Linked DNA regions of Homo sapiens: region 2 is linked to region 1. Evidence: fine-mapped QTL for protein levels in blood plasma. A gene starts in region 1. The other region holds a variant in brackets. All regions are shown on one strand. Distances are between the middles of the regions.

Region 1 (2,366 bases):
CTTTGAACATGGACTTCTGGCCCCCGAAAAAACCCCTGGCCAGTGCCAGGCCCAAGGGTAACAATCGCTGTGAGCTGGGACCTGTGGGCACCTTTCCACAGACAGCAGTCCCAGGCCCAAGACAGGAGGAAAACGCTGCCTTCCCTCCAGGCCCGCTGGGCCTCACATCCCTGCCTCCTGAAGCAGCTGGGAGCTAACACACACCTCATTCCTTCCTGCCTCTGCATCCAAACTGGCGAGTAGGAACCGTCTTACACTTGTGTGCCCACCACAGCAGCCCAGACATAGAGAATGCTCAGGAACCACCAACTTGACGGTTTGCTTGTTGGCCCCTGACTCTGTACCACAAGTGCCTTCACAAGAGCAAAGGCTGTCTCCCTTGCCTCCAACCCCAGCACCTGGCAAGATGCTTAGCACCCAGGAGATGCCCAGCAAATGTTTGCTGAGTTCATCTGAAAAAATGGACAGGAGTCCAGCGGCCCTGGATGCAGGCAGACTTCCCCACTGTGTGACCCCCAAGAGAGGGACAATTCATCCTGGCTGGCAGAGCGTACCCCAAGTCACTTAGAGCCCCTGCTGTAGCCCCTCTCCTCGGGAAAAGTTGTTAAATGAAGTGCAGAATCTGCTGCCTGAGATTCACTGGGGGTGACTCCCTTCCTACCTAAGGTCCCATCCAGCCAAAGGTGAAATCAAGCCAATCTGTGATACATCTGTGGAAGGAACACTGAGATGTCAGATACTGCCAGGTCTCGGTCTCCAAGCAGGTGTCCCCTCCCAGTCCTAACACGCAGGTACATTCAGCTGCTCCCAGGTTCTCAGAGGTGAGGGCAAACTTCATTCCAACTCATTTGAGTGAAGTACTATCAAACAGTAAAACCCACTGCATGAAGAAAAGCAGCCCCAGGACCCTCAGAGGCAAGTGGAGGAGGGAGTATTAGGATCATCCCTGGCTGAATTGAATTGCCCCTCCAAACAAAGCCCTTCTAGTCCAGCGACAGAGAACTCCAGCTCCCCAGGAGCAGGGATCAGTCAGTCCTGCATCTTCCTCCCACAACTGAGCCAGCTCTCCTTCCAAAGGCCATACCTTCCCCTGCAAATGAGGGCTGCGGCTATCTCCAAGGTCCCTGGGAAACTCAGCTGCTGGACAATGGTGCCGCCCACCCTAGGCCATGCTCTCAGCTGCTGCAAAGGCTCAATCAGGTCTGCTACAGCTCCGGACTGTCTTGCTGTTATGTAGCCCAGGGGCTGTGGAGTCCCCACTGCTGGGGGAGATAAAGCCCAAGCTGTGACATCCACCAACCACCCTCCCTTTCCCACCACAATAGCTGTGAGCTGCCACAACAGGGGATTGGCCTCCTTTTAATTACCAAAAGGAAACAATGAAAGGAAATGGTATTAGAAGTACCTCCAAGCTGATAAAGCTTTGTAGAGTTTGGAGGGAGACCTCCTGGCAGCTGCCTTAATTAACTGCCTTGCCCTCCCCAAACACCCCCTATCCCTACACCCCCACACTTGATCCCTGGTCTTCCTAGAGTGCCCCACCTGTGTGGGATAACCAGGAATGCTGGTTGTTTCAGGGCAAGCTGATACAGGCCAGGGGGAATCACAGTAGAACAACACAGCTTCCTGATCCAGCTTCCAGGGCTGGACTCCAGGGAAGTTGAGAAAAACACCTCAACCTGAGCCAATTTTGCTGCTGTGTTTGGAGGAAGGGGAGTACTAACACTTCCTATGCACCCCAGGTATGAAGGATCCGGTCCTGGCCCTGACAAAAACAGTCCATTTGGATCCTGGCCAGGGTTGAATGGATCGGCTAAAGATGAAGGTCTTGGCCACAAGCCTAAGCCTTTGTAAAATGGTGAAGGTGGGGAGTGATGGTTTGAGTCTAATACTTCTACTGTTGCTACATTCTAATAATTCTAATTCTCAAGGACATTTCCACCCACTTCTGGTACCCTGATCTTACACACACACACACACACACACACACACACACACACACACAATTCTTCTTCCCAGCCTCCCATTCCCAAAAGCCTAATTCTCAACACCATCTGCTAAACTAATTCCTACTAAAATAAGTAACTGATGCAATGGGCAGCGGTGGGGGGAAGATGACTCTCGTGCTGGGATTCCAGGCACTGAGACAAGCACCCTGAGGCATGTCTGGGTATGGAAGACCTCCTCACTGCTTCTCCATGATACCTCCTGCCCTAAGACTTTGAGAAACCACTAGGTTCCAACCTCCTCCCTTCCCACATACCTCGCACTCTGCTACTCCCTTTACCGCCCCAGGAGAGGAAGATGCACACTCCCAAGGAAGAAAAATGGCACCAGAGGCAGAATCAGCATGAGACAGTAGAAAA
Region 2 (8,000 bases), 92 kb before region 1:
ACTAAACCAGTGGCTAGAGTAGCCAGAGCCACTTGTCACATACATGCCACTTAAAGAAATCATGCAAGTTCCAACAAACTGTTGGACCCTAAATAGTGGAACCGTTCTCAAAAGTTGGTTATTAGCAATTTTACAAATAGCTCTCAAAACATGCTGGCCCATGACTCAATGATAAGGAAACACCCTAGAATAGTCTGCAGTGTTATACTAATATTGTGCATGATTGGTTTGCTGCTGTAGGTTAAGAAACCTAAAGAAAAGTTGATATTGTCATTCAGATTCAAGAAATACAGAGAACACCACAAAGATACTCCTCAAGAAGAGCAACCCCAAGACACATAATTGTCAGATTTACCAGGTTGAAATGAAGGAAAAAGTGTTAAGGGCAGCCAGAGAGAAATGTCGAGTTACTCACAAAGGGAAGCCCATCAGACTAATAGCAGATCTCTTGGCAGAAACCCTACAAGCCAGAAGAGAGGGGGGGACCAATATTCAACATTCTTAAAGAAAAGAATTTTCAACTTAGAATTTCATATCCACCCAAACTAAGCTTCATAAGTGAAAGAGAAATAAAATCCTTTACAGACAAGCAAATGCTGAGAGATTTTGTCACCACCAGGCCTGCCTTACAAGAGCTCCTGAAGGAAGCACTAAACATGGAAAGAAACAACCAGTACCAGCCACTGCAAAAACATGCCAAATTGTAAAGACCATCGATGCTACGAAGAAACGGTATCAATTAATGGGCAAAATAACCAGCGAACATCATAATGACAGGATCAAATTCACACATGACAATATTAACCTTAAATGTAAATGGGCTAAATGCCCCAATTAAAAGGCACAGACTGGCCAATTGGATAAAGAGTCAAGACCCATCAGTGTGCTGTATTCAGGAGACCCATCTCACGTGCAGAGACATACATAGGCTCAAAATAAAGGGAGGGAGGAAGGTCTACCAAGCAAATGGAAGGCAAAAAAAAAAAAGCAGGGGTTGCAATCCTAGTATCTGATAAAACAGTCTTTGAACCAACAAAGATCAAAAGAAGGCCATTACATAATGGTAAAGGGATCAATTCAACAAGAAGAGCTAACTATCCTAAATATATATGCACCCAACACAGGAGCACCTGGATTCATAAAGCAAGTCCTTAGAGACCTACGATCAGGGAGCAGAAAACACTCCAAAGGCCAAGTCCCCAACAAGATGAAGCAAGAAAGCCACTGACCTGGTATGTCTGCTTCAGGACCACGGAGATGCTCAGGTGGCGGTCCCAGACCACGGAGAGGGCTTTGCCCAGCAGCAGAATGATGTACCGGCCAGACTCCACCACCTCAAAGTGAGTCTCATCCTTCATGGGCCTCTTCACATTCACCTGGAGGAAGACAAAGCAAGAAATCCAGGAGGATGAAGGGCAGGCTCGACAGCCAGATCCTCCCTCCACTCTACACCTGCCCATCTGTCTTCAGTGCCCACGAGTGCAGGCACTGCCACCCCTCCAGGACCCCACCTGCCACTGCACCCCTGCAGGGCCAGCCCCACGCCAGGACATGTCTGTGACCATCTCACCACCACCACTCTCCAGGCATCCATGACCAAGAGACGGTAACAGAGGTAGCAGCAAAATCATGATTATGAAATTAAAGTACTATGAAACCAATGAGCAGGTATTTTATTGACAATTAGTCATTAAATATAGTGGTCTCCTAGATAGGTTTTCAACATGGCAATGATTTTAAGCATCTCTAGTTGATTGTTTAAAAATCTATTCCTCTATAAAAATAAGCAGTAGACTCTCACCTTTCTTGTATCCCACCACCTCCCCCTCCCCAGAGCCACTGTCATCAGGAGACAGAGCTGAAGAAAAAGGAAACTGAGGTGCTCAGTGCTAGTGCTGGGAATCACACACTGCAGGTTCAAGAAGGGCTCTGACCTGAGCCTCTGACTTAGCCCAATCCCTGCCAGTGCTGTACCCTGGAGGACCATTTCAGCATGTGTGGCGGACTCTCCAATTCATCAGACTGAGGCTGAGGCTGAGAACTGCCATCATCCCTTTGCAGAGGTCCTCTCATTAGTAACATATCACATGCAGTGCAGAGCTAATCACATGTGCAAATCTATCCCTCACATGTCTGCACACCTCCTGTTCAGCATCATCACCGCCACTCTGCCCTAAATAGAGCTGTTCTTTGAAATGCAGTTGACACTGCTGACTCACAGTTAATACGTTATGCTTGCTAAGCAGTTTTCTTCCATAATGGTGAAGAATTCACCTCCCATCCCCTGCTGTCAATGGTGGGTATTTGGAAGAAGGCAGAGCTGCAGGCTGAGGCCATGGGAGAAAATGAAGATACCAGGACAAGTTTGTGCCCAGAGCCTGGGTCTCCACAGCACTCCACATAGTCAAAGCAGCGGATCCAAAACTGTGGCCTGGGGATGACCTGCAACTTTAAACACAGGTTCCTGGGCCCCACCCAGACCTACTGAGTCAGAATCTCAGCATGGAGTTCTAGGAGCCACATTTTAAACAAGATCTCCTAAGGGAGTCTTGTGTACACTTATGAGAACTACTTTTTAAGTTCTTAGTACACAGGGGACTGAATTAGTTTACTCCTCTTTTGAGCTCCTTTCTGGCCAGGCATGGTGGCTCATGCCTGTAATCTCAGCACTTTGGGAGGCCAAGGCAGGTAGATCACCTGGGGTCTGGAGTTCGAGACCAGCCTGGCCAACATGGCGAAATCCTATCTCTACTAAAAATACAAGAAATTAGCCGGGCACGGTGGTGTACACCTGTAGTCCCAGCTACTAAGGAGGCTGATGCAGGAGAATCGTTTGAACCCTAGAGGTGGAGGTTGCAGTGAGCAGAGAGATCACACCACTACACTCCAGCCTAGGCAAAAGAGCGAGACTCCATCTCAAAAAAATAAAGTATTTATCTGAAAAGAACAGAAAAACATATGAAACATATCCCATAACATCATCACTTCATACACACACACACACACAAAGAAACCCGGCTACCCTCCAGTCCCCACCCTACTCTAGAGGTGAGCACTGGTTCTTCCCACGTTTGTGCAGACACATGTGCACATCCTTCACACACACTCTGCACTGTCGCTAAAATGGGATTGTGTCATCCCTATTGTTCTGCCACTTGTTCTTCTCATAAAATAATACGTCACGGTCAGTTGCAATAGCTCTGCCTCATCCTCTTTAATGGCTGTGCGTTATTCCATTCACACGAGCTCTAAATGAATGCTTGGAAAATGTTCCTATTAAGTGGCAGAAGCACAAAGCGGGACATGAGGGTGGAGATGAGGCTGCACTTACCTCCCCGTCAAACAGCTCAATCTCTCCTCCCTCCACCAGGATGGTGACCCGTTTCTTGCATTTCACTGAGGGGTGGCTGCATCCCTTATTCCCCACTAGGATCCGAAAGGTCCCAGGGTTACTGCCGCAGTAATCCTGGGGAAAGAGGAGTGCCAGGAGAAGACCATTATCCCCACTGGCTCTCACCAGACCAGAAGATTGGCATCTCTTCATCACAGGCCTTTGAGTACGTGTCACAGGATCTTGCCACGTCCATGGCTGCGCATATGTGCCTCTGTGTGTGTCTGGGGGACGGGGGATATGCCCAGGTGAATGCCCTCAGGTGTGTCAACCTCGCCCACGACAGATGAGCCAGGTGCCTGCAGTGAGTGGGGTGGGGGTGGGGAAGGAGGGGGAGGGAAGGAAGGTGACATGTGGCCTGCTTCGATGGATGCATCAGGCTCAAAGGCCTTGCCTAGAGCCCATTAGAGTCCCACTGGAGCCTTGCCTAGAGTCCCACCCAGGTAACTGGGACAGTTTGACCACAGGGCACTTTGTGGCTCTGAATTCTGGTTGAATCCCTCTGCACTGCTGGCCCAGAAATGGAACCAAAGATGGTTTGACACAGCTCCATGGGTCCTGAGCTACCAAGTCGAGATGAGTAGAGAGGATAAGGAGCTCTGGTCCTTGTTGGTCAATTGCATAGAAAATTAAGCAAAAGGGGACACATTCCTGGCAAATGCCTCCCCCATGGTGGCTATTATTGTGATGTGATGAAAAAGAAAGATAAAATGTTCAACTTAGAAAAACAGAGTGTGTCGCTTGAACCCGGGAGGCGGAGGCTGCAGTGAGCCGAGATC[G/A]CACCACTGCACTCCAGCCTGGTGACAGAGCGAGACTCCATCTCAAAAAAAAAAAAGAAAAGAAAAGAAAAAAGAGGCCGGGCATGGTGGCCCACGCCTGTAATCCCAGCACTTTGGGAGGCTGAGGCGGGCGGATCACGAGGTCAGGAGATCGAGACCAGCCTGGTTAACACGGTGAAACCCCGTCTCTACTAAAATACAAAAAATTAGCCGGGCGTGGTGGCGGGCGCCTGTAGTCCCAGCTACTAGGGAGGCCGAGGCAGGAGAATGGCATGAATCGAGGAGGCGGAGCTTGCAGTGAGCCGAGATCGCACCACTGCACTCCAGCCTGGGTGACAGAGCGAGACTCTGTCTCAAAAAAAAAAAGAAAAAATAAAAACAAGGTGTGAATCTTGATTCTGCCACTTATTGGTAACACTGAGCAAACCACTTACCTTTCTGACACACACACCCACACACACACATACACCCAAATACACACAGGCACATGCATACACTCAAACACACATATACATACATCTATGTACTCATACACACACTCACACACGTGCTCACACATACACAGATGCACACACATACACCCATGTACTCATACACACACACACGCATACACATACATACACACACGTAGCCATACACACACACGCGCTCACGCATACACACACATACACCCATGTACTCATACACAGTCACACACACGCACATGCATACACCCACACACACGCACATGCATACACCCACACAGACATGCTCATGCATACACACATGCACACATACATGCATACATATGTCCATACAACACACACAATCTGACCTCTAAGATTCCATTCAACTTAATGGAATTGTCAGGTTAAATGGCTTTGTGTTAGGTCGATGCATGGCGAAGGTTAAAAGAGGAAACAAGGGTGTAGGTGTTTTATTTGTCCTTATCTTCAGCTGAGATTTCTGAAAGAGGGAGTTAGGTCTTGATGATACTCCCCAAAGGAGGATGGCAGAAAGGGGAGGGGCCCCAGGACAATGCATCAGAAGACAACAGAACCAGCTGTAGGAAAGGAAAACAAGCCACACACAAGGGGCACCGTTTGGAGGGGGAGTCTTTAAAACTGGTCCACTTGGGAAAGCTGGCCTGGGCAGGGAAGGGCTGGGAGCAGCAGATGCTGACCAGCTGTCTGGTCCTTGCTGCACTGAATTAATTTTTTCCTGGATGTTCAGATTTGAAATGGGCTGGGCAGTTGTTCTGCAAAGCTGGTGTCGCCCTCTCTTTTGCTGCTGAGGCTGGGAAACTTCCATATAGAATCTCTGGGAAAGCTCTAAAGGGGCGCATATCCCCCCGGATCATAGGTTCCCTGCCTGGTCTGCATGCCCTGTGTCCCCAGCACACTGCCTGCCTCTCTGGGCCAGCCCGGGTGTGAGGTGGGGACTGAGGAGGCTGCTGTTGGCTCCGCCCCATGCCCAGCATGCTCTACACGAGTGGTCGGTCCACAGTCACCCACGCTGCCTGACTCACCAGCTCCTGCAACTCAGCCTCTGGGGCTGGGGCTCCTATGGGTTTGTGGTCTTCCATTCAGACCACACCAAGCTCCCGCCCCTCCTCCTCCTGGGAATGGAGACAGAGGGACCATATTTGTTCAAAGCTTCACAGAGTACAGTGCCTCAGCTCTGGTGAGAAAAGCACTCATACTTCCTTGCTTACACAGTTGATGTCAACCAGAAAGAGAAACTTACAAGAATCCACGCAGTGGGGAGTGGGAGGCAGAGGGGCTGCTGCCCACACTCACCGTGAGGATTCCTGGATCGCTCTCATCTGCTGGGCAGGATGACTTTCCTGTGTCCCATCCTCCCACTCCTCCCATTCTGAATTGTACCAAGTTAGACATTAAAATGGCGGAGAATTCCACAAAGCCATATCGTGGGAAGCAAACTCCAGGGGTCATTTCAACCATCCCCCTGTCCAGGGCCACTGCACAACACCTGCAGACTGTGCACTGCCCAGGGTGCTGGAAGGGAGGCTGAGCGGGACTGACTTCCCAGCCCAACCCACTCCCTAAGCTATGCACCCTGACTGAGGCTGTGTCTACCAGAAGGAACAGATGACTTTTTCTAATTCCACATCTGTGCTAATGTGGACTAGCAGTAGCCTTTCTCCCACACCAATCCTCAACAACAAACAAGCTTCTGTCTCGTTTTATAAGTCCCCAGGTGAGCAGAGGGAAAATGGACAACCACTTTGAGCTTCAAATCCCCTACCGCTTCAGGCACTTCTGTGAAGGACTGGGAAGTACTCCAGTAGAAACCAGACCCCAGAGTTGTTTCTGCAGACAGATCCACAGAACCCAACCTGAGGCCACACCTCCCACCCCTCCTAGAAAGAAACAGCACCCTCTCCCCATCTCCCCACCTCTCACCTGCACCAGAACGTACTGGCACTCCCCGGGGAACAGGTATTTGAGCCCGTCGAAGGTGAGGTAGTGGGCCATGCCGATCGTGGAGCACGTGGCATCACACACATGGTCTGTGCAGTTCCACTTCCGGTCCTGACAGACACTAGGAGCAGTCATGGCAGAGATGACAAGTTGGGCACCTTGGGTTTGAGGGGCCCATCTGGGCCATGGAGGCAATGAAGGAACACAGAATACTCTGGGTGCCTCCCAACCCTCCAGGAAGCCCAAGGAAGTTGAGGACCTGTAGCGTGGAGTGTGGACTTCATAGGCCCAGTATGGTGCCCAGCAGGAGACAGGGAAGCCTAGTGGCTGTCCCTAAAAGGGGGAAACTGAGGCAAAGAAGGGAAGGGGTTGTCCAAAGTGAGCCAGGCAGCCAGGGAGGAGGCCCGGATGCTCTTTAGGCCTCCTGTTATGAATTCGCTCAGCCTCACCCTGAAAGCCACATCTACCTGAGATTGGCCACAGGGTGTCTGTAAAACAGACACACTGATGTTGAAAGCCTGAGGCTAATGGGAAAAACAAGACAGAACAGTGGGAAAGCCCAGAGTATAGAAAAGAGTGATGAAGTACGCACTTCTGCCAGGAGCAGTCCTGTGTGCATAGCTACACGTTAAGATGTATGTAGCTACATGTTAAAATCTATAGTGATCTGCCCACTGCCACGTGTCCCTCCCTGCCACCACCCGTAACCAGAGCTGACATCAAGAAGCCCACTTGTGCGTCAGAGGTGGTAAGCTCAGACCTCAAGCCCAAGAGACAGCCCTCTCTACCTCTGTCCAGTAGGCCTCTTTCCAAGGCTGTGCACAGCCACCAAGTCAAAGGCAGGGTGAATGAGCAGGGTGAGGGGTTACGTGCAGGATGGCCAAGGAAAAGGGAGAAGGCAACCAGCCACCCTCACCTCAAACCACGCCACTGCAAGCACACTCACGAAGTGCTCATGGGCAGTGTAAGGCCTGCAACGAAAGGACCCTCCAGACCCCGTGCCCACTGGCAGCTTGGCCCAAATGCAATGACTGGTGGGGCGAGGTCCCTGTCTTCCCTGGGGCCCATCTCCCTGAACAGAAATACAAGCTGAGCATTCCTAATCCAAAACTCTGAAGTCCAAAATGTTCTGAAACCCAAAACTTTGAGCACCAACATGACACCACATGGGTGGCTGAGAGGGTGACACCTTTACTTTCTGATGGTTCAATGTACACAAAACTTTGTTTCATGCACAAACATTAAAAATACTAAATACACATTAAATACATATTTAAAATGTTGTATAAACTTACCCTCAGGCAACGTGTATAAGGTATATATGAACCATAAATAAATGTCATGTTTAGATTTAGGTCCCATCCCTAAGACACCTCATTATGTATATGCAAATATTTCAAAGTCCAA

Direction of the effects. Alleles are on the strand shown, and positions count from the first base shown. The strength of an association depends on the size of the effect and on how common the allele is.
As copies of A replace G in region 2, the plasma level of the protein whose gene starts at base 1,334 in region 1 goes up (weak association).

What was found. PIP is the chance, under the fine-mapping model, that this variant and not a neighbour inherited with it causes the effect. The UK Biobank Pharma Proteomics Project read protein levels with antibody pairs (Olink). The fine-mapping took linkage between variants from a reference panel, not from the people measured, so its PIPs are less certain.
Region 2: its variant is fine-mapped to the plasma level of the VWF protein (UK Biobank, PIP above 0.99).

Annotation. Positions count from the first base shown.
Region 1 is chr12:6,123,337-6,125,702 of GRCh38, forward strand. VWF (von Willebrand factor) reads right to left here and starts at 1,334. Exons shown (of 52, transcript NM_000552.5): 1 at 1,085-1,334.
Region 2 is chr12:6,028,113-6,036,112 of GRCh38, forward strand. VWF (von Willebrand factor) reads right to left here. Exons shown (of 52, transcript NM_000552.5): 20 at 6,576-6,714; 21 at 3,332-3,466; 22 at 1,230-1,376. Among named protein-coding and RNA genes, the nearest start is that of SNORA120, 8.1 kb to the right of the region's middle. The variant G/A (reference allele first, on the strand shown) is at 4,171.